5 linked regions of the Homo sapiens genome follow. The protein of the gene in region 1 purifies or fractionates together with the protein of each later gene. This does not show direct contact. Each region holds a gene or a part of one and is shown in the gene's direction. Other genes may lie near its edges. The genes, in order: CHCHD6, SLC2A12, CTDSP2, HACD3 and SLC25A12.

Evidence for each region.
Region 2: the proteins of CHCHD6 (region 1) and SLC2A12 purify together in Homo sapiens (co-immunoprecipitation; one large-scale study listed by IntAct). This does not show direct contact.
Region 3: the proteins of CHCHD6 (region 1) and CTDSP2 purify together in Homo sapiens (co-immunoprecipitation; one large-scale study listed by IntAct). This does not show direct contact.
Region 4: the proteins of CHCHD6 (region 1) and HACD3 fractionate together in Homo sapiens (co-fractionation; one large-scale study listed by BioGRID). This does not show direct contact.
Region 5: the proteins of CHCHD6 (region 1) and SLC25A12 fractionate together in Homo sapiens (co-fractionation; one large-scale study listed by BioGRID). This does not show direct contact.

The regions. Positions count from the first base shown.
Region 1 is NC_000003.12:126,728,084-126,732,046, forward strand, and holds part of CHCHD6 (MICOS complex subunit MIC25), read left to right. Parts: intron 1-2,477; coding exon 2,478-2,547; intron 2,548-3,963. UniProt on the Homo sapiens protein: Component of the MICOS complex, a large protein complex of the mitochondrial inner membrane that plays crucial roles in the maintenance of crista junctions, inner membrane architecture, and formation of contact sites to the outer membrane.
Region 2 is NC_000006.12:134,028,288-134,032,250, reverse strand, and holds part of SLC2A12 (solute carrier family 2, facilitated glucose transporter member 12), read left to right. Parts: intron 1-2,529; coding exon 2,530-3,870; intron 3,871-3,963. UniProt on the Homo sapiens protein: Insulin-independent facilitative glucose transporter.
Region 3 is NC_000012.12:57,826,043-57,830,005, reverse strand, and holds part of CTDSP2 (carboxy-terminal domain RNA polymerase II polypeptide A small phosphatase 2), read left to right. Parts: intron 1-409; coding exon 410-558; intron 559-2,415; coding exon 2,416-2,454; coding exon of another isoform or gene 2,455-2,472; intron 2,473-2,908; coding exon 2,909-3,010; intron 3,011-3,603; coding exon 3,604-3,660; intron 3,661-3,963. UniProt on the Homo sapiens protein: Preferentially catalyzes the dephosphorylation of 'Ser-5' within the tandem 7 residue repeats in the C-terminal domain (CTD) of the largest RNA polymerase II subunit POLR2A.
Region 4 is NC_000015.10:65,533,151-65,537,113, forward strand, and holds part of HACD3 (very-long-chain (3R)-3-hydroxyacyl-CoA dehydratase 3), read left to right. Parts: intron 1-3,963. UniProt on the Homo sapiens protein: Catalyzes the third of the four reactions of the long-chain fatty acids elongation cycle. This endoplasmic reticulum-bound enzymatic process, allows the addition of two carbons to the chain of long- and very long-chain fatty acids/VLCFAs per cycle.
Region 5 is NC_000002.12:171,891,041-171,895,738, reverse strand, and holds the start of SLC25A12 (electrogenic aspartate/glutamate antiporter SLC25A12, mitochondrial), read left to right. Parts: upstream 1-1,494; 5' UTR 1,495-1,524; coding exon 1,525-1,536; intron 1,537-2,480; coding exon 2,481-2,534; intron 2,535-4,698. UniProt on the Homo sapiens protein: Mitochondrial electrogenic aspartate/glutamate antiporter that favors efflux of aspartate and entry of glutamate and proton within the mitochondria as part of the malate-aspartate shuttle.

The DNA.
Region 1 (3,963 bases):
AGTTGCCTTTTCTACTCATCTTCCCTGTTGGGTTGAAAGAGTTTAGAATATGAGAGCTGTATCCTGCCCACTTAGTGTTTACTGAAGGCCACCCAGAACCAAGTCCTGTGCCCTGTGCCAAGACACAGTGATAGGTGGGCAGGGACCCTCTCTCATGGCACACCTGGCTCTGGTTATGGAGACTGATGAGTTATGTGTCATGTTGTGATGCAACACTGGAATCTGTACCAGGCTCACGGGAGAAGAGGGACTGTGAAAGGCAGGAGGAATGGTGGTGGGTGGGCACTGCGAATGGGCAGATTGCAGGAGCGGAGGTCCGGCGACAGGGTGCATCCCAGCCTGCTCGGGGGCCTAGAAGCATTGCCCAGGAGCCAGTCAGCACCTGGATTTGGACCCACCCCAAGATCTTTCTGAATATCTACCACTGTAGGGGATGTGTGAGATTCCCGAAAACCCTCCAAGAAGCCCTTGTCCTTTACTAATAGGGCTCACTTACTCCCCACGCTGGCTCTAACTAACTGATGAGAAGGGCTTAAGAGGAGTCTAACTTGACCCAATGCACTTTAACAAACTGGATTAACTCGAAAGAGGGAGAAAGTGATGATAAAAGCGAAAATTGCCATAATATATAATACTACACATCAGTTTCAGCTTTAGAAGAAATAAGAAGCATTTGCTTCAGTTTGGTAAGTTCCAGCAGTTTAGAAAGCAAGAACAGTGGTTCTTTTGTCACTTGGAGTTAATTATAACAAAGTACTTTGCTGTTTAAATGATAGGTGTAAGTTTTGTTTCTGAATGTTGAAGAGTCAGCATAAATGGACTGTCTTAAAGTTAACTAATTTTAAGATATTTTGTACTTTTAAAACCAGTTTTTGCTTTATTTTAGTGATGGAACAAAGTTAGAAAAAGAAATTAAAATTAAATTCTTCTCATACTATACCCCCCAAAAATGTCAGAGGAAATAAAAGATTGAAATGTATGGCTTGAAGCCATGAAAGTACAATAGAAGATAGATTTTCTACACGTCATATTAAACGAAGAAACCTTAAATTAAAAAAAATAGGAAATGTGAATATAAGAAATTAGACAATTTAGAAAAGAAGTAACAGGAATGGATAAGTTAGGGAAAATATAACATTTGACAAAGTCCTAGTAATCTTAATATGTAGCGAGTTCTTAAAGATCTTTAAGAAAGACAACTCAGTAGGAAATGTGCACAGATGGCCATACTCATGACAGGATCTCCACGTCACTAATACTGAAAGAAACACATGTTCAACAATGTGCACTCCAAGGGAGCGGGGAGCGGGCAGGGGCACACAGAAAGGGCAGTGAGGATGAGTGCCACATGCTCTACATTGGCAGCCCCGTTATTTTTGTAGTTAAAAAATGGAAAATTATATAAAAAGCAAAAATACCAGACATTAAACCTCAGTAAAGCTCTTCAGACAAATAAATAAGCATGGCGAGCACTAGTGTGGAGATGAAACCCCGCAGCAGGCTCCTGAGTTCACCTCAGTTGAGAACCTGGTGTGTTGCTGAGGAGCATGGGAGGTGCTCTCCTCCCATGAGAGGTGGTTTGAAAGTGCGAGTAGTCACAGCTGATGCTTTCAGAAGTGCCCCCCGAAGGATCCCTGACGGGTCTGGGGTGGAGTCGCACACCCTCATTGAGCGCCTCACACAGCCTGGTTCTTATGTTATGCTCTATGTGGTTCTGGCTGCTGGTGCATAGAACCCTGTGGTGGAGGGAGGTGTGGGACATCGGAGAAGGCCAAGAAAGGTGGTGAGCTTTGGCTGACAGAGAGCTTTGGAAGGGTAAAGGCTGGGGACAGGGTAGTAACAAAACCTTCAGTATCAGCAAGTGGTGGGGAGAGTGAATTGGATTTGCTCAGAAATCCCGAAATTCGTGATGATCAAAAGGGACCTACTGTAACAACAAAAAGAGCCCAATAATACTAAAGGCGATAGTGGTTAAGTAGAATTAGGTTTAATATGGGGCATTTGCCACAGTGAGGATTGTGCAGACTCAGGTGGGTACTAAGGGAAACAAGATTTAAAGAGCCCCCACCCCTTCCCTTCCCTATGCCAAAACCTCTACCCGGGAGGTTGTCCTCATGAAGCAAAGCAATACCTTCCCGCAGCCACTCCTGGCCTGTGCTTAGGAGATGACCTGGATTCCAAATAATTGTCAGGAGAGTAGGGATGGGTTTGGAACACTGCACCCAGTGTTGTGGGCATCCTGGTGCAGAGACCCCTTCGGGATAAGAGGTGGCTTGGATCATCTGGCTTTCCAGACAGCTTGAATCAAGGGTGTTCCTTGTCTGCCCCTGTGGACGCTCCTTTGTGGGGACACATCTGTGATGCTGCCTTCCAAGGGGCACATTCATTCATGGGGGTCATTCCTCTCTGGGTGACCTCTGTGACTTCGTGGACCCTGGGGTGCCACTGACAGGCCCTTTCTTCTCTTTCCTTTGCAGAATCCACACTGCCCAGGTCGGGGAGCAGTGGTGGCCAGCAGCCCTCAGGGATGAAGGAGGGTGTCAAGAGGTGAGCCCGAGAGCCTGCTTGCTCCCGGCACTGCGCTCCGCCTAAAAGCCTCTTTCCTCACTGGGTACCCCTCTCCTTGCCTGAAGCCCTGGAGGCTTTGTCTCACATAATTAATCTCAGTTGCATTGAAGGACAACCCTATGGTATAGGTATCACTGGTCCTAGTTTAAAGATGTAGAAACACCAAAAGGGGCATAGGGGAATTGATTGTTAATGTTCCTCATGCCCAGCAGTTTGAGAGGCCAAGGCAGGAGGGTTGCTTGAGGCCAGGAGTTTGAGACCAGCCTGGGCAACATAGCAAGACCCTGTCTCTAAAAGATAAAAAATTAGCTGGGGGTGGTGGTGTGTGCCTGTGTAGTCCCAGTTACTCGGGAGGCTGAGGTGGAAGAATCACTTGAGTTCAGGAAGCTGAGGCTGCAGGGAGCTGTGATTGCACCACTGAACTCCAGCCTTGGTGACCCTGTCTCTAAAAAAAAAAAAAAAAAAAAAAAAAAAATCATTTAAAAAAGCTAGGACTAAACAGTTGAGTGGCTGGAACTTCTGCATGTGTGTGCACATGCAGGCATGTTTTTAGAGAGATGAGGAAGTGGAGCCCTCCCAGTGCTAACTGTGGTTGTCCAGATGAACTGGCTCCAGGATGTTGGTAACTTTGTGAGCACAGGCCACGACCCCAAGAGCTGGCCACACCTCTGTCATGGGACCTGCTTCCTGTCGCCGGAGAAGTTTTAGCAAAGTGGTTAAGGCACAGAGGCCCCAGTGGAGCACAGGGTGGCATCTTGATCCTGCAACTTACTAGTTATGTGAACTTGAAATATCACTGCATCTAAGAAGGGCTAAGAAGAGTACTTCTTTAATTGGGATCTTGTCATGGTTAAATATGTTTATATATATCATGCACATGAGCACAGCACCTGGCCTACAGAGTTCTCAGTGGATGCTCACAGTAGTTGTTACTGATTGACCTCTTCAGCATCCTTGAGGAAATTGCCCTCAGTATGGTCAGAGGACCCAGTGGGTCAGCTTAGGGGGCCCAGTGTCAGCCATGGTTGGGCGTTTGCCCTCTAGTAGTTCAGCCATGTTGGGTCTGTTGCATAGCCATGGGTTAAGACCCACATTCTAAGATTTACTCTCCCTAATCGGTCTTAGCAAGAATAACTCACCTGGCCAGGTGTGGTGGCTCAATCCTGTAATCCCAGTGAATTTAGGAGGCTAAAGCAGGAGGATTGCTTGAAGTCAGGAGTTTGAGCCCAGTCTGGGCAACATAGTGAGACCCTGTCTCTACAAAAAAATTAAAAACGTTAACTGGGGGGTAGTAACACATGCCTGTAGTCCCAGCTGCTCAAGAGGCTGAGGTGGGAGGATTGCTTGAGCCCAGAAGTTGGAGTTTACAGTGAGTTATGATTGCACCACTGCACT
Region 2 (3,963 bases), on another chromosome or scaffold:
ATTTGCTCCTCCATCTAAATATTCAGTGCTTTTTTCCCCTTATTTTTGGGGCTGCCAATTCCCATAGCCTACTAGGATCCTGGAGATGGAAAATACCTTGAGTATTTGTGGTAGAGCTTTAGATCACCTTTATTTGACCTGCTTATTTCACTAGAGCTGAATAGCATTTTTAACTATACCCTCCCCCAACCCCGAAAAGGCAGCCTTAGCTCAGCCTATGAAAACCGTGTGTGTAATCACATTTCTAACATTTGACTTACACCTCAGTTCTGATTCTTCTCCATCTCCTTTGCTGGCACTAGTCTTCTAAATATTGGCATTGCCTAGGTCCCAGTCTTGATCATGCTTTTCCTTTTCCCCTATTTTATCTTCCTAAGTGATCTCACCCATTCCTGTGGCTTTAAATACCAAATGTGTGCTGCTGGCTTCCAAATACATATGTCCAGGCTTGACCTATCTTTAAGCTCCAAATCTGTATACCCAATCCCCTACTTAACATTTTTACCTGAATGTCTTACAGATAAAATAAATAAACCATTTTACTAAGTCCAAAATGAAACTTTTGATTTTTGCCCCTCCTCTTATCACCACTCACAACCAGTTCTATTCCTAATCTTCCCTATGTTGGTATGTTGCGCTACACAGTATATAGTACAATGCCCTCTACATCTCTCAATGGGTGTTGGCCCCATATAGTACTGTATTGAGTATATCAAATATTGTAAAATCACCCACCCACCTGCTCAAGCCACAGAGCCATCCTGGGTTCTGACCCATTTTTTATCCCCCATCTCCAATTCTTGAACAAGTGTAATGTTTTTTTTGTTTGTTGTTTGTTTTTTGTTTTTTGTTTTTTTGTGAGATGGAGTCTTGCTCTGTTGCCCGGGGTGGAGTGCAGTGGCATGATCTCAGCTCACTGCAACCTCTGCCTCCTGGGTTCAAGTGATTCTCCTGCCTCAGCCTCCTGAGTAGCTGGGACTACAAGGCATGAACCATCATGCCCAGCTATTTTTGTACTTTTAATAGTGATGGGGTTTTGCCATGTTGGCCAGGCTGGTCTTGAACACCTGACCTCAGGAGATCCACCCACCTCAGCCTCCCAAAGTGCTGGGATTACAGGCGTGAGCCACCACATCCAGCCCTGAACAAGTGTAGTGGTTTTTAGCTCCAAAATAAGTCTTGAATCTGCCTACTTATCTCCAGTTCCACTCTTAACACCCAAGTCTAAGCTACCATTATCTCTTGTCCAAACCAAGGCAACAAACTCCTCCCTGCTACCAGTCTTGCCAGTCTTGCATTTTGAAGAACTAATCTCTACATAGCAGTGAAGGTGGACTTTATAAATAAGAAACCTATAGCGTCAATGCCCTCTACACCTCTCAGTGGGTGTTGGCTCCATTATACTTGGAACACAATGAAAAGTCATCACTGTGACCGACAAGGCCCTACTTGAAGTGCCCCCTCTGTACTTATCCAAATTCATTTTAAGCCCTTTCCGTCCTACCGCTCCAGGCTCACAATGTGCCCCACATGTTATATGTTGGCCATCTGACAGTTCCTAAAACATAATGAGAACTTTCCTGTCCTAAGGCCTTGGAAATTACTTTCTCCTGGGCCTGAAATACTCTTCCCTCTGTTGCTTTTTTGTTTTGTTTTATTTCTATTTTGACAAGTTGCAAACATATAACAAACATCTGTGTTCCTACCACCAAAAATTAATAGTTACTAACTTTTTGACATTTTTCCTTGGATTTGAACATTAACGAAAGAACAATATAAAGGTAAATTCTCCTTGTTCTGCCTGTGTTCCATCCCCCTTTCTCCTTACTCAGAATGAGTAAGGGATATTGCTGGTTCCTTACACTACATACATTTCTTCCTTCCTTCTGTTTAGCAAAACCTTGACTTTGTTAAGGCATTCACACACTGCCCACTCCCACCTCCACCCTCTGCCCCAACACCCTCATGTGTTCAGCAGAGGCCATTTGCAGCACGACTGTGGCCCAGGAGATAAGAGGGCAAGTTTCCTGGAGGCTGTGTTTCATTTTGACCCAGGCTATCCAGCAAGGAGGCTGTAGCACTTCTAGAGGCTCCTATCCTCTCTCTCCTGCCCTCAAAGATTTGCCTTTAGAGAACTGGAATGGGACCAAAGAGTCAGGCTCTTTGAATTTCTGATCCACTGCCAAGTCATGAACCAAATGATGTTCTTGTTTGTTCAGTCTTCATCATGTGTCATCTGCTTATCTCAACATCACTGTCTGATCTAAACCAAAAACATCAACATCATAAATAGAAGGAAACTGGACTTCCTACATGTCTCCATGCCTATCCTCCCAAAAAAGAAAGAAAAATGATTTCTCCTTCTATATCAAATCATTTTTTGGTTAGTGTATTATTTTATCATAATTGTGTGTTCGTTTAAACCCAGTGCTATGAAAGACTTCTACAAGGTTAAATCTCCGCTCAAATACAAAATGTTTAAAATCTCAACTGAGAACTGACCTCCCTGTCTCTTCTCTCTGCTTGCAGGCTGCGGCATGTTTACCTTCCTGTCATCTGTCACTGCTGCTGTCAGTGGCCTCCTGGTGGGTTATGAACTTGGGATCATCTCTGGGGCTCTTCTTCAGATCAAAACCTTATTAGCCCTGAGCTGCCATGAGCAGGAAATGGTTGTGAGCTCCCTCGTCATTGGAGCCCTCCTTGCCTCACTCACCGGAGGGGTCCTGATAGACAGATATGGAAGAAGGACAGCAATCATCTTGTCATCCTGCCTGCTTGGACTCGGAAGCTTAGTCTTGATCCTCAGTTTATCCTACACGGTTCTTATAGTGGGACGCATTGCCATAGGGGTCTCCATCTCCCTCTCTTCCATTGCCACTTGTGTTTACATCGCAGAGATTGCTCCTCAACACAGAAGAGGCCTTCTTGTGTCACTGAATGAGCTGATGATTGTCATCGGCATTCTTTCTGCCTATATTTCAAATTACGCATTTGCCAATGTTTTCCATGGCTGGAAGTACATGTTTGGTCTTGTGATTCCCTTGGGAGTTTTGCAAGCAATTGCAATGTATTTTCTTCCTCCAAGCCCTCGGTTTCTGGTGATGAAAGGACAAGAGGGAGCTGCTAGCAAGGTTCTTGGAAGGTTAAGAGCACTCTCAGATACAACTGAGGAACTCACTGTGATCAAATCCTCCCTGAAAGATGAATATCAGTACAGTTTTTGGGATCTGTTTCGTTCAAAAGACAACATGCGGACCCGAATAATGATAGGACTAACACTAGTATTTTTTGTACAAATCACTGGCCAACCAAACATATTGTTCTATGCATCAACTGTTTTGAAGTCAGTTGGATTTCAAAGCAATGAGGCAGCTAGCCTCGCCTCCACTGGGGTTGGAGTCGTCAAGGTCATTAGCACCATCCCTGCCACTCTTCTTGTAGACCATGTCGGCAGCAAAACATTCCTCTGCATTGGCTCCTCTGTGATGGCAGCTTCGTTGGTGACCATGGGCATCGTAAATCTCAACATCCACATGAACTTCACCCATATCTGCAGAAGCCACAATTCTATCAACCAGTCCTTGGATGAGTCTGTGATTTATGGACCAGGAAACCTGTCAACCAACAACAATACTCTCAGAGACCACTTCAAAGGGATTTCTTCCCATAGCAGAAGCTCACTCATGCCCCTGAGAAATGATGTGGATAAGAGAGGGGAGACGACCTCAGCATCCTTGCTAAATGCTGGATTAAGCCACACTGAATACCAGATAGTCACAGACCCTGGGGACGTCCCAGCTTTTTTGAAATGGCTGTCCTTAGCCAGCTTGCTTGTTTATGTTGCTGCTTTTTCAATTGGTCTAGGACCAAGTAAGTACTTTATTCTTTAATGTATTGCTTTTGACCAGTCAGAGCATCCTACTGCTATAGTACCTCATGAACATAAGTGCTAGAAGGAAGACA
Region 3 (3,963 bases), on another chromosome or scaffold:
TCAAAGGGGACCAGGTTTCTCCGTTGTCTGGAACCGATGGTCTTCCTGGGAATTGACGTTAGGGAGGATTTTTGTCTTCGTGAATTAATTTTGAGTGTGCTGCAGCTGGAGCAGCAGAACACCTTGATTCTATGCCTGGCCCCATCTTCCCCGATGGAATGAAAAACAAATGCTCTGTGGCTCAGGTCTCCCAAGCCAGAGAGTGGGGATTCCTGACATTCCTGCTTTAAAGAGAAAAGGCTGGAATAAACATGTATGTTTGACTGTTAACTGTATGTGGTTGTTCACCAGCCGTATACTGTGTGCCCTAGTAGAGTTTACAAACTAGAAGAGCTATGGGCATGGTAGTATCTGTGGACAGAAACTGATGTCCCTAGAGCTAAAGCCTCTGTCATTCTCTCCACCCTAGGCCTGGTCTCCAAGTCCTCTCCTAAGAAGCCTCGTGGACGTAACATCTTCAAGGCCCTTTTCTGCTGTTTTCGCGCCCAGCATGTTGGCCAGTCAAGTTCCTCCACTGAGCTCGCTGCGTATAAGGAGGAAGCAAACACCATTGCTAAGGTAGGTGGGTTGGGGTGGTAAGATGCCAGCAATGAAGGGACTGTTAATGGGAGATCCCTGCAGACGATGGCAACCGGACAAGGAAGCTTTGCCTGAAGTTGCAAAGATTTCTGGCTGAGAGGGGGCCCTTCCTCCATCCTTCCATAAGTAGTGTATTTCCTTTCTGTTCCTTCCCTTTTGCGGTGTGGGCCATTCACATGTCACTGTGGTTTCTGAGGGCCCCTGTGATCCTGATCCTTCCAGGTTCCAGGAACTAGGCAAGGTGCTTTGCATATATTGTCTCATGTGATCCAGCCAGCAGCCCTGTAAGGAGATCACAGGATTCACACTTTGCAGATATGGATTTATGTAGAGGGTTTATGTAGCACCTGAAGAGTTCATGGTTAATAAATAGTAGTGTCAGGATTTGAACTTAGATTTCTCTGGCTCTAAAGCCTGTGTTGTTGTTCTCAATTATGCAAAGCTAACTTCCAAGTTACCTGAGTTACAGGGAACCAAGGAATTGAAACTCTACCATGCTGTTAATAACTCCTGTCAGCAGTTCTCTCCCATACTCATGCAAGGCATTTGGGATTTTGTGGGTATTTTTTATATGTCTAGTATTTCACAGGTGGGGCCAGCCCCGACCAACAAAAATTATTCTGCCCCAAAAGCCAGTGGTACTTCTCTGAAACACTGAGGTCTGGTTGTCCTTCCTTTTTCTCAAGACCAGGCTGAAGACATACATCAGTGAAAAATCACTGCATTTTGCAGTAGGGGAAATGGTTAAATAAAATACAACATGACAGTATTACTGAGTGATTAGCTTTTACAGAGTTCTCAATAACATGGAGAAGTATTGAGTTGCAACATTAAGTAAAAAGGCAGAGTGTGTAATTGTATAGCATTCTGGAAAAAGTCTGCGGACACAGATTTGAAGGCAGTACACTGAATGCCACATTGTTTATCTAAGTGCTAGGATTTTAATTTTTCTTCAAAGTTTTCATTAAGAACACTTAAAACCATAACTTTTTTTTTTTTTTTTTTGAGATGGAGTTTCGCTCTTGTTGCTCAGGCTGGAGTGCAATGGCGTGCGATCTTGGCTCACCGCAACCTCCGCCTCCCGGGTTCAAGCGATTCTCCTGCCTCAGTCTCCCGAGTAGCTGGGATTACAGGCATGTGCCACCACGACCGGCTAATTTTGTATTTTTAGTAGAGACGGAGTTTCTCCATGTTGATCAGGCTGGTCTCGAACTCCTGACCTCAGGTGATCCGCGCGCCTCGGCCTCCCAAAGTGCTGGGATTACAGGCATGAGCCACTGCGCCCGGCGGTCATAACATTTGTATTAGCAAAAATTGGGGTGGGGGGCTTGCTGATCTCTCTGCACTCCCTCCCCTCACATTTTGGGTACCTACAATGTGGCTTACTTGATGTTTTATAGGGCTTGTTCCCCCACATAACCCCTAAGGAGGGCATGGAAAACAACATGTTCTCAAGGAGAAGCCTGAGTTTAAGGACTTAGCGAGAGTTTGCCACTGTGAGGAATTCAGACTTTGGTTCTGCCTCTGACTCTGTGTCCCTGAATCAGTTACTTGAGTTCCCTGTTCCTCACTTTGTCCAGTTGAGAGGCAGTGGCAGCCGAGAACAGGGACACTTGTCTTCTCCATCCTTCATCAGGCCTAATGTGGAAAGGAAGCTCTAGCCTTTCCCTTTTCCTGCCCCACTCCTAGGAAAAGTCACTTTTGACATGGTAGGAGCTTCCAGGTGGCTGGGTCTGGGGGAGAAAGTTGCCCTCCAGGCTTAAGACAGAAGCAGTGGGTTTGGATGGGGTGGGAAAGGCAGTGAGATGGCACTGACCACCTCCTTCTCTTCCTCAGTCGGATCTGCTCCAGTGTCTCCAGTACCAGTTCTACCAGGTACGTGACTCTGGCCTGGTAAGTACTCAGAAGCCAGGATCCTGTGATCCCTGCCAGCTCCACGGGCAGGGTGATGTGCATAGTCCTTGGTGCCTAGCCAGCCACCTCCCTGACCTGGGAAGCCATTTGTTCCCCATACTTGTTGAGGGCCTGCTATGTGCAAGGCATTAGATTTTAGGGGACAGCTGGTGCTCCATGCCCTCTTCCCACAGCTGCTGTCCATCCCACACCTGCCCTGGCCACCACCTCCAATGTCCAGATCACTTAATAGTCCCACTGGGAGGCTGAAACCAAGGAAACAACTCCACCTCCTTTCTTCCTGGCCTTTAAGTGGTGCCTATCCTGGGTTGGTGATTGTGTCTCCACAAACAACCCAGCTCTTCCCATAATTATGCCAAGGGGTACAATTGGGCTTTCTTGGTAGGCAGATCTCAGCAACCTGGCTTGGTTTTAGATCCCAGGGACCTGCCTGCTCCCAGAGGTGACAGAGGAAGATCAAGGAAGGATCTGTGTGGTCATTGACCTCGATGAAACCCTTGTGCATAGCTCCTTTAAGGTAACTCAATGTCTGGAACCCTTCCTACCTTTATCTTGGGCCTTCTTGTGAATCTGGCAACAGATGTGTAAGGCAGCCTAAAGGTGAGGAAAGAAGAGTGATTAGAAGGGAAAAGGCCAGGCCTCTGGCATTTTGGCCACCCTGTGTCACAGGTATCTAGAGGCCCCACTGAAGAATGTTGAGTAGGAACCCTGTGTGTTCCACCAGGGCTGCTATCTCCAGTCACTCCCAACAGGCTGCATCTGCCCCCGAGCCACATAGCACAGAAAGCCAGCCACGAGGGCTCTGTACAGGGCAGGCCTAAAAGAGTGGTTGGATCACCTTTGGCCCTTGCCCCTGCTTGTCTCCTCAGGAAACTCAGGCCCCAAAACTCTCAGCCCAGGTAGAATTTGTCAGAGTGGAGGTGCTAAGGAGTAGGGAAAACCAGAATGGGGTATCACATCTTGAACTAGGGTGAGAACCCCTTAATGAGGTGGCCAGAGGCACTTCCAGGAGTCTTTAAGACCTGTTTCTCCCCACCCACCTAGGGGTATGGTGGGGGCCTCATGTTTCTTTGCCACCATGCTGACAGCATTAACTTTTCTGCCTTCCAGCCAATCAACAATGCTGACTTCATAGTGCCTATAGAGATTGAGGGGACCACTCACCAGGTGAGCTGCCAGCCAGACCACACCCAGCCCAGAGGGTGGGGGGTCTGCCTTCTGCCTCACCTGTACTGGGGTCCTCCACCCATCTCAGGGCTTGGGTTCTGTCAGTTGATCCCTTTTCTATAACTCCAGCCTCCCCTTTTTATTGGTATCTTTCACTCAAGGCTTTCTCACCTTAAAAAAAGAGTTTCAGCCCCATATCCCACCCAGCTGTCTCCCTTGTTTTCTCTTTGCAACCAAGCTGTTTAAAAGAATAGTTTACATTTTATTTAATAATAATAATAGCTATCGTTTGTTAACCACCAT
Region 4 (3,963 bases), on another chromosome or scaffold:
CAATAACACACCCGTAGTTAAACAAGTTGGGTTTATTACTCATTGCATTGAGAGAGCATACTCCATGGGGAACCCTGGGGTGTTTCATTAGGAGGGTGTTAGAACTGATTATAGGATTTGGGTGTTGGTGATTAGGGGAGGGGAGGGTTAAGGAGGTTGGGTTTCACTTCAGATAAGATCCTGTAAGAAAATATGGGAGTTTCGTGGTTGGGTATCTGAATAAATCTTACCTGTAGGGCAGGGAGACTAGTATAAGAACAAAACTGTAATTGCTACAGGAGTAGCAGTCACTCAATTTGGCCAAAGGGTGTTTGGTATTTCGTGAGTGGCATAGCCACTATGTATTTGTCTGTGCTTATAACAAAATTGTGAAATGGCCTTTGTCTCATTTTATGAGGATTTCAGAGTAACCTTGTCTGAGGTTGGTATTCTGTGAGATTGTTTATGTCCCATAGGAGAATAACATGGCCTGGCTGTGAGTGCTATGCCTGCTTCTGGAGTGTCACGGGTTGCCTTTTTTTTTTCTTTCTCAACTGATTGCTCTATGCAGGGCCTGTTGAAACCAGTGGTTTTACATGTGCAGATTTGTTATTTAAAAAAAAAAAAAAGAAAGAAAAGCAGCCGGGTGTGGTGGCTCATGCCTGTAATCCCAGCACTATGGGAGGCCGAGACGGGCGGATCATGAGGTCAGGAGATCGAGACCATCCTGGCTAACACGGTGAAACCTCGTCTCTACTAAAAATACAAAAAAATTAGCCAGGCGTGGTGGCGGGCGCCTATAGTCCCAGCTACCAGGAGGCTGAGGCAGGAGAATGGCGTGAACCCGGGAGGTGGAGCTTGCAGTGAGCCGAGACTGCGCCACTGCACTCCAGCCTGGGGGACAGAGCGAGACTCCGTCTCAAAAAAAAAAAAAAAGAAAAGAAACCAGTGGTTCTGGCTCTGGATGAAGCACTTCATTTATTTGTTCAGTAAAAATCGTTTATGGAGTACCTACTCTTGTCTATCATTAAGCTAGGTGTGGGGTTCTTGGACAGCACTTTAACACTCTCTGCTTTCTATAGCATGACCCACAGCTTATGTGTAAGTGTGAGTTTTAAAGTGTTAAGTTCCAGTTTGGAGGCATTGGCTCTGTCTCCCTCCATCCTGACACAGGGAACTGTCCAGTCATCACATCTCTATTCTGTCTTGGATGCTGCAGGGCTAGTGACTATGAGAGAACACGGCTGATGTGAGGAGAAATGGTGGACAATAAAGACTTCAGCAGTGGCATCGTCTGTGCTTGAGGTGAACGGTAGCAAAGAGGCCAGCTAAAGCAGGGTTACTTTCAAGATTGAATTTACTTTCACGATGAACATAATGAACGTGTTTGTCCCGAGAAACATAGTTGTTAAAGCATTGGTTTATTTACAAGGTGCTTGTTTGTTTTGGGTGTTGTGAGCAGAGAACAGAGCGTAGCTGTGTTTGAGAGCTGTTTGAAAGATATTGTTCCTGTCCTTACCTAACAGAGTCTGGTGGAAAGAGTGCTAACTGAACACATGAGATTGGGTCCTTGTTCTTATTACACTTATGCTCTAGTGACCATGATTCACTTAACCTTTATGAACCTGACGCTCTTCATCCAGACAGATATGAACAGTAGTGCCTAACTCATAGGACCATTTTGAGATTTGAATTGGAAAATGGATTTGAAAGTGCTTTGCAAATTCTAGTGTGCAGTTCAAGTGAGTGATTATGATGATTGCGATATTAAACCTTAGATGAGAGGGATGGTCACAGAGCAATGGAAGAATAGAGCCTATTAGCAGACCTATTCATATATGAAAAGTTAAGGTATGACAAGAGGCGCTCTTACAAATTAATGAGGAGAGAATGACCCATTCAGGAAATTGTACTGGGACAATTGGTAATCCAAATGGCAAAAAGAAAATAAGATCCTGCCTTATGCCATACACAAAAATCAGTTTCAGGTGCATTAATGACCTAAACGCATAAAGAAAAACTACTAAAAAGAAATATAGGAGACTATCTTTATAATATTGGAAAGGGGGAGAATGTGTTAAGCAAGATGCACAAAACACAAACCCTAAAGACAAAGATTGGCACATTTAAGACAAACTTGAAGAAGACATTTGCAGTGCATATCATTGAGAGATGACTAATATCACGACTATTTAAAGAACACCTACAGACCAATAGGCAAAAGACGTATTACCTAATAGAAAAAGGGGCAGATAATATAAACATTTCAGAGTAAAAGGAAACAAGAATGACCAATAAGTCTGAAAAGATGCTTGACTGCAATTATGACCAGGCACATGTACAGGCATACCTTGTTTTATTGTGCTTTGCTTTATTGTGCTTTGCAGATAATGCGGTTTTGACAAATTGAAGGTTGTGGCAACAAAGTCTGTTGGCGTCATTTTTCCAACAGCATGTGTTCATTTAGTGTCTCTGTGTTGTATTTTGTTAATTCTTGGAATAGTTCAGATTTTTTCATTATTATTATATCTGTTCTGGTGATCTGTGATCAGTGATCTTTGATGTTAACTTTTTTTTTTTTTTTGAGGCAGGGTCTCACTCTGTTGCCCAGGTTGGAGTGCAGCAGTGTGATCATAGCTCACCGTAGCCTTGAACTCCTGGGTTTGAGCAGTCCTCCTGGCTCAGCCTACCAAGTAGGACTACAGGTACCTGCCTAGCTAATTTTCAATTTTTTAATTTTTTTAGAGGTGGGGTCTCATTATGTTGGCCAGGCTGGTCTTGAACTCCTGGACTTAAGCAATCCTCTTGCCTTGGCCTCCCAGATCCCTGAGGTTACAGGCTTGAACCACTGTGCCTAGCCTTGATGTTACTATTGTGATTGTTTATTATTTATTTATTTATTTTTGAGACAGGGTCTCACTCTGTCACCCAGGCTGGAGTGCAGTGGTGTGATCTTGGCCCACCGCAACCTCCGCCTCCCAGCCTCAAGTGATCCTTCCACCTCTGCTTCCCAAGTAGCTGGGACTGCAGGCATGTGCCACTGTGCCCAGCTAGTTTTTGTATTTTTTGTAGAGACGAGGTTGGTCTCGAACTCCTAAGCTCAAGTGGCCTGCCCACCTCGGCCTCCCAAAGTGCTGGGATTACAGGTTTGAGCCACTGTGCCCAGCCACCATTGTGATTGTTTTATGGCAAAATGAAATGCACCTATATAAGATGGTGAACTTAATCGATAAATGTATGTGTTCTGACTGCTCTCACTGGCCATTCCTCCATCTCTCTCCCTCTCCTTGGGCCTCTCCTCTGAGACACAACAATATTGAAATTAAGCCAGTTAATAACCCTACAATGGGGTCGGGTGTGATGGCTCATGCCTGTAATCCCAGCACTTTGGGAGGCTGTGGTGGGTGTGTCACTTGAGGTCAGGAGACCAGCCTGGCCAACATGGTGAAACCCCGTCTCTACTAAAAATATACAAAAATTAGCTAGGTGTGGTGGCGGGTGCCTGTAATCCTAACTACTCAGGAGGCTGAGGCAGGAGAATCACTTCAACCTGGGAGGCTGAAGTTGGGTGAGCTGAGATCACGCCACCGCACTCCAGTGGCAGAGTGAGACTCTGTCTCAAAAACAAAACAAACAAACAAGCCCTACAGTGGCTTCTAAGTGTTAAAGTGAAGAGTTGCACATGTCTCACTTTAAATCAAAAGCTAGAAATCATTAAGCTTAGTGAGGAAGGCATGTCAAAACTGAGACAGGCTGAAAGCTAGGCCTCTTGCACCAAGCAGCCAAGTTGTGAATGCAAAGAAACAATTTTTGAAGGAAATTAAAAGTGCTATTCCAGTGAACACCCAAATGATAAGAAAGCAAAATATCCATATTGCTGATATGAAGAAAGTTTGAGTGGTCTGGATAGAATATAAATCAGCCACGACATTCTCTTAAGCCAAAGCCTAATCCAGAACAAGGCCCCAACTCTTTCAATTCTAT
Region 5 (4,698 bases), on another chromosome or scaffold:
TAATTATAAGTGGCTTGGGCGAAACCCCATAGCTACTAAAAATACAAAATTAGCCAGGCATGGTGGCGTGCACCTGTAATCCCAGCTACTTGGGAGGCTGAGGCAGGAGAATTGCTTGAACCCAGGAGGCAGAGGTTGCAGTGAGCCAAGATGGCGCCACTGCACTCCAGCCTGGGCGATAGAGCGAGACTCCGTCTCAAAAAATTAAAAATGAAAACATACACAGGGTCGGGCGCGGTGGCTCACGCCTGTAATCCCAGCACTTTGGGAAGCCGAGGTGGGCGGATCACCAGAGGTCAGAAGTTTGAGACAAACCTGGCCAACATAGTGAAACCCTGTCTCTACTAAAAATACAAAAAATTAACTGGGCATTGCGGCGGGTGCCTGTAATCCCAGCTACTCGGGAGGCCAAGGCAAGAGAATCTCTTGAACCTGGGAGGTGGACGTTGCAGTGAGTCAAGATGGTGCCACTGCACTCCAGCCTGGGCGACAGAGCGAGACTCAGTCTCAACACACACACACACAGACACACATACACACAATACACATGTGATTGGGGTTGTGGAGAAGCATTGACCATCTGTAAGCCCCTAGAGGGTGGGGGCTATAGGTTATTTGCGTTTTTTACAAGCAGGACCATGTCAGGCATATAATGGATGCCCATACATGTTTGAATCAATATGTAGCCTAATACAGTGATATTGGCAAGACGGGTTTAGAAACATTGTTTTGGTTCAAGATAGAGTTACTGCTTCTTCTACTTCTTAGGTAGGGCTAGAAATCGAATGGAGAATTACTTTCTGTTCATGTATGGGCAAGCGATTCATTGCCAGCCCTGTCAAAGACACATAGAGTTTTTTTTCTCATTGCACACAGGATTTGGGTGATTAGGAAAGTGGAGCGAGTCTACTAATAAACCGTTGTAATAGCACGCAAAGCAAAAATAAATTCAGCGTATTCGTCCCATGCCAATTTAGGAGCATATTTCTCAAATTATGTTTACGTAGGTTTTCCCTAGAGTGAGTGGTTCCCAATCTTGTTTTGTCGGTATTTGCCATCAGTTGTCATTAATTCATTGTTATTAATGGGAAGTGCTCTTTGATCCGTCGGAACCTTGCTCAGTATAGGCCCCAAATGTTCCTTTAAGCCTCGGGGAAAACGACTTTGGCTGGTCGGTGCCCAAAGCCACACCCACTAAGAGGCCTTAGGAAACCTGGGGCTTTCCTGGCGGCGACCTAGCTGTGGCAACCACGCGGCGCGTCGGGATCCCATGGGTCGCGCTTGTTTTCCCCGTGGGAGGCGCGTCCCCCTCCTCCGCCCGGCCGGCCGGCCCTGGACCAGCTGCCTTTCTGGCCGGGACGCCGGGCCCCTTTCCGCACGCGGCGCGCCCCGAGTTCATTTGCATAGGGACGCGCGCGGCGCCGGCGAGAGGGAGGGCGGGCGCGGCCGGGAAGACGGCGCGCGCGCGCCCTGACAGCTCGGCCCTGCTCGCTCACTCGCTCGTCCCCGGCTTCCGAGCACAGCATGGCGGTCAAGGTGACTCCAACTCTCTGCTGCTGCTTTTATTGCATAAGAGACATTCCGAGCGCCCTGCCTGCAGCCCCCCACTGCTTCCCATTTTATTCATTGTCTAGGTCTTAGATAGCTTGTCCTGGGGCTCCGGCTTGCTGCGGGGAGAGCTGTGCGGGGCTTGGACCGGAGGAGGGGATGCCCGGCTGGGGGAGGGGAAGGAGGAGGGATTGTGAGTTGAAGGGGCTTGTACGGTAACACGGGTCAGTGAAGGAAGAGTAATGTCCTGTCCTAGGTGCATGGGATTGTGAGTCCGGAGTTGGAGGGCATCAGAAAGGGTGTGGGAGGAAGTGGCAAGTAAAGCTGGGGATACCTAGGGTATCAGTGAATTGCGGTGGGGGAGGGAGTAAGTATTGAGTAATTTGGGGCCTCAATAAGGCCGAGGGCAGTGGTTGGCTTTTGCGTTGCAGATTGCAGGGTATGGAAAGTATTTGTATTTGTGGCAGCTCTCATATTTTAGGTTGGATGGGGAGAGGGACGCGGAGATAATTACATGTTGGGTTTGCTTTTTATGGAGAAAGGCTGCTAGGCCAAGTGATTAATTTGGGTGATTTAACTTTCCTGTTGATCTACTCTTGTTAGCTTCTTGATTTGAAGGTGGGTGGTTACTACTGTGTTGCTAGTAGATGTGGAATAAAGTAAAAGATCCTCATTGCCTTCCCTTTCCAGTCCAGAGGAAGCACTGTCCGATAGCTTTGCTGTATCTTAGGCTATTCGCACCTGTTTTTCTGCCCTCTAGTCACAGTTATCCAGTTTGACAGTTCTTATCAGCAATTAGGGCTTTTAGTTTGTTTTAAACTAAATGATAAAAGATAGGAGCATTGATTGTTAGCCATGTGACCTCTAATCTGAAGAGATTGTGTGGTCTCTAGTGAAGCATTAACTGGCTTTTTTTTCTTTTTTGCTTACAGGTGCAGACAACTAAGCGAGGGGATCCTCATGAGTTAAGAAACATATTTCTACAGGTAAATTGGCTTGCATAGTGTGCCTTTCATTGCAAAAACAAAAAACGTACATGTCCTTAGTCCTATTCATGCCTTAACTTTGAGGAATGTTCAGTTTTCATGTATTCTTTCAAACATGACCGGACAATATAGCTTATACTTCTCTTAATAAGGTTTGATTTAAGGCCTTCTTTTAATTAAGGGTCGATAAAAGGTTTTCCTCAAGTTACTGCTTTTTTTTTTACATGACTTAAGATATATATTTTGAAAAAAAATTTCCAGCTTAAGCACAGAGACCAAGATAAAATTTCAAAATGTATTGGCATTCTTGTATAGTTAATAGGTATGATGACTAAAATTCTCTTCCTTGAAAGTTGCATGTTTACAAAGTTTTCCTACTTATGAGCTATCCTCCATGTAATTTGTTACAGAGATAAGAATATTATAGCTATTCTTAATTTGTGTGTCTTACTTACATTGTATCCTTAAGCCTTGGGGATTTTACCCCAAAATGTTACCTCTTAAGATTCTTGCAATGGTCTACCTTAACTTCTAAGCTTTTAGAATCAGTGACTTGGCTGTAGACTTAAAAAGAAAAGAAAAAAGAAAAAAAAAAGGTTGGCTTAGTTTTTTGTTTTGCTTTCTTTTCTTAAATTTCAAAAGTTTCCTATGCAGGAAATTGTACTTAAGAAGTAGATGTAGGCCGGGCGCGGTGGCTCACGCCTGTAATTCCAGTATTTTGGGAGGCCGAGGCGGGTGGACCATGAGGTCAGGAGATCGAGACCATCCTGGCTAACACGGTGAAACCCCGTCTCTACTAAAAATACAAAAAATTAGCCGGGCGTGGTGGTGGGCGCCTGTAGTCCCAGCTACTCGGGAGGCTGAGGCAGGAGAATGGCGTTAACCCGGGAAGCGGAGCTTGCAGTGAGTCGAGATCGTGCCACTGCACTCCAGCCTGGGGACAGAGAGACACTGTCTCAAAAAAAAAAAAAAGTAGATGTAAAGGGAGGCAAGCTAAGGTGTTTCACCAAATATTGCATTTCTCTCTGAAATCTTTTGAGAACTTTCTATTCTGGACCTGGGTTCTTATGAAGACACTTTGACCTTGGGCAGGTCCCTGCTGTGTATTATTTTCCTCTGTGAAATGAGAGGTGATCTCCAAGGTTCCTTCCCATTCCAAAAGTCTATGAGTCTATTTTAGGAACAGATTCTAACATATGCTGATGAGCCTGGAATAGATGACATTTTTATTTGAGATATGTGGTTTGCTTAAGCTATTGTTGGGTAAGACGCTGCGTAGTTGAGCATACATATGTGTAGTTTATGAAAAATAATTTGTGAAAATGGGAATCTTAAAGGTCATAATATCTGATAAGGGAAGTATTTTTTTCCAGAACAGAAGTAATTATAATAACAGAAATGGTCCATTTATGACTTGAAACCTTTATTCCTTGCAGGCATTCTTGAAAATAGCCAAAAATATATCGGTATTCACCATACCATGTGATTATAGTCAATTGTTTTGTGAAGAGTTCATGTGATATAGTTAATTTTATGTTCTAGACTAAGTAGATGCGGAAGAAATGAGTTGAAATGCTGCATGATGTAGTGAAAAGAATACTGCCTAGGTATCTGAGTACTGCCTAGGAATACGGAGTTAATTCCCAGCCCTGCATTTATCTGGTTCTTGTACCCTTAGGCTAATCATCTGGCCTTCCTGAGTTTCAGCTTCTCATGTGGGACTCAGTGGGACATAAAGGAATGGGAATTGAGGTCTTTCTAGCTTTAAAAATTCTATGGGAAAAAAATATACTGTGATTCTGTATGGATTTGTTTTTTGTTTTTGAGTGGGGGTAGAGGTGGGTTGGAGGTATGAGGAGAATGGCGAGGACTGTCCCTAGCTCTTTGACAACTTTTTTTTTTTTTTGAGATGGAGTCTCGCTCTGTCGCCCAGGCTGGAATGCACTGGCGTGATCTTGGCTCACTGCAACTTCTGCCTCCGGGGTTCAAGCAATTCTCTTGCCTCCGAGTAGCTGGGATTACAGGCATGTGCCACCACACCCGGCTAATTTTTTGTATTTTTAGTAGAGACAGGGTTTCACCATGTTAGCCAGGATGGTCTTGATCTCCTGACCTCGTGATCTGTGTGCCTCAGCCTCCCAAAGTGCTGGGATTACAGGCGTGA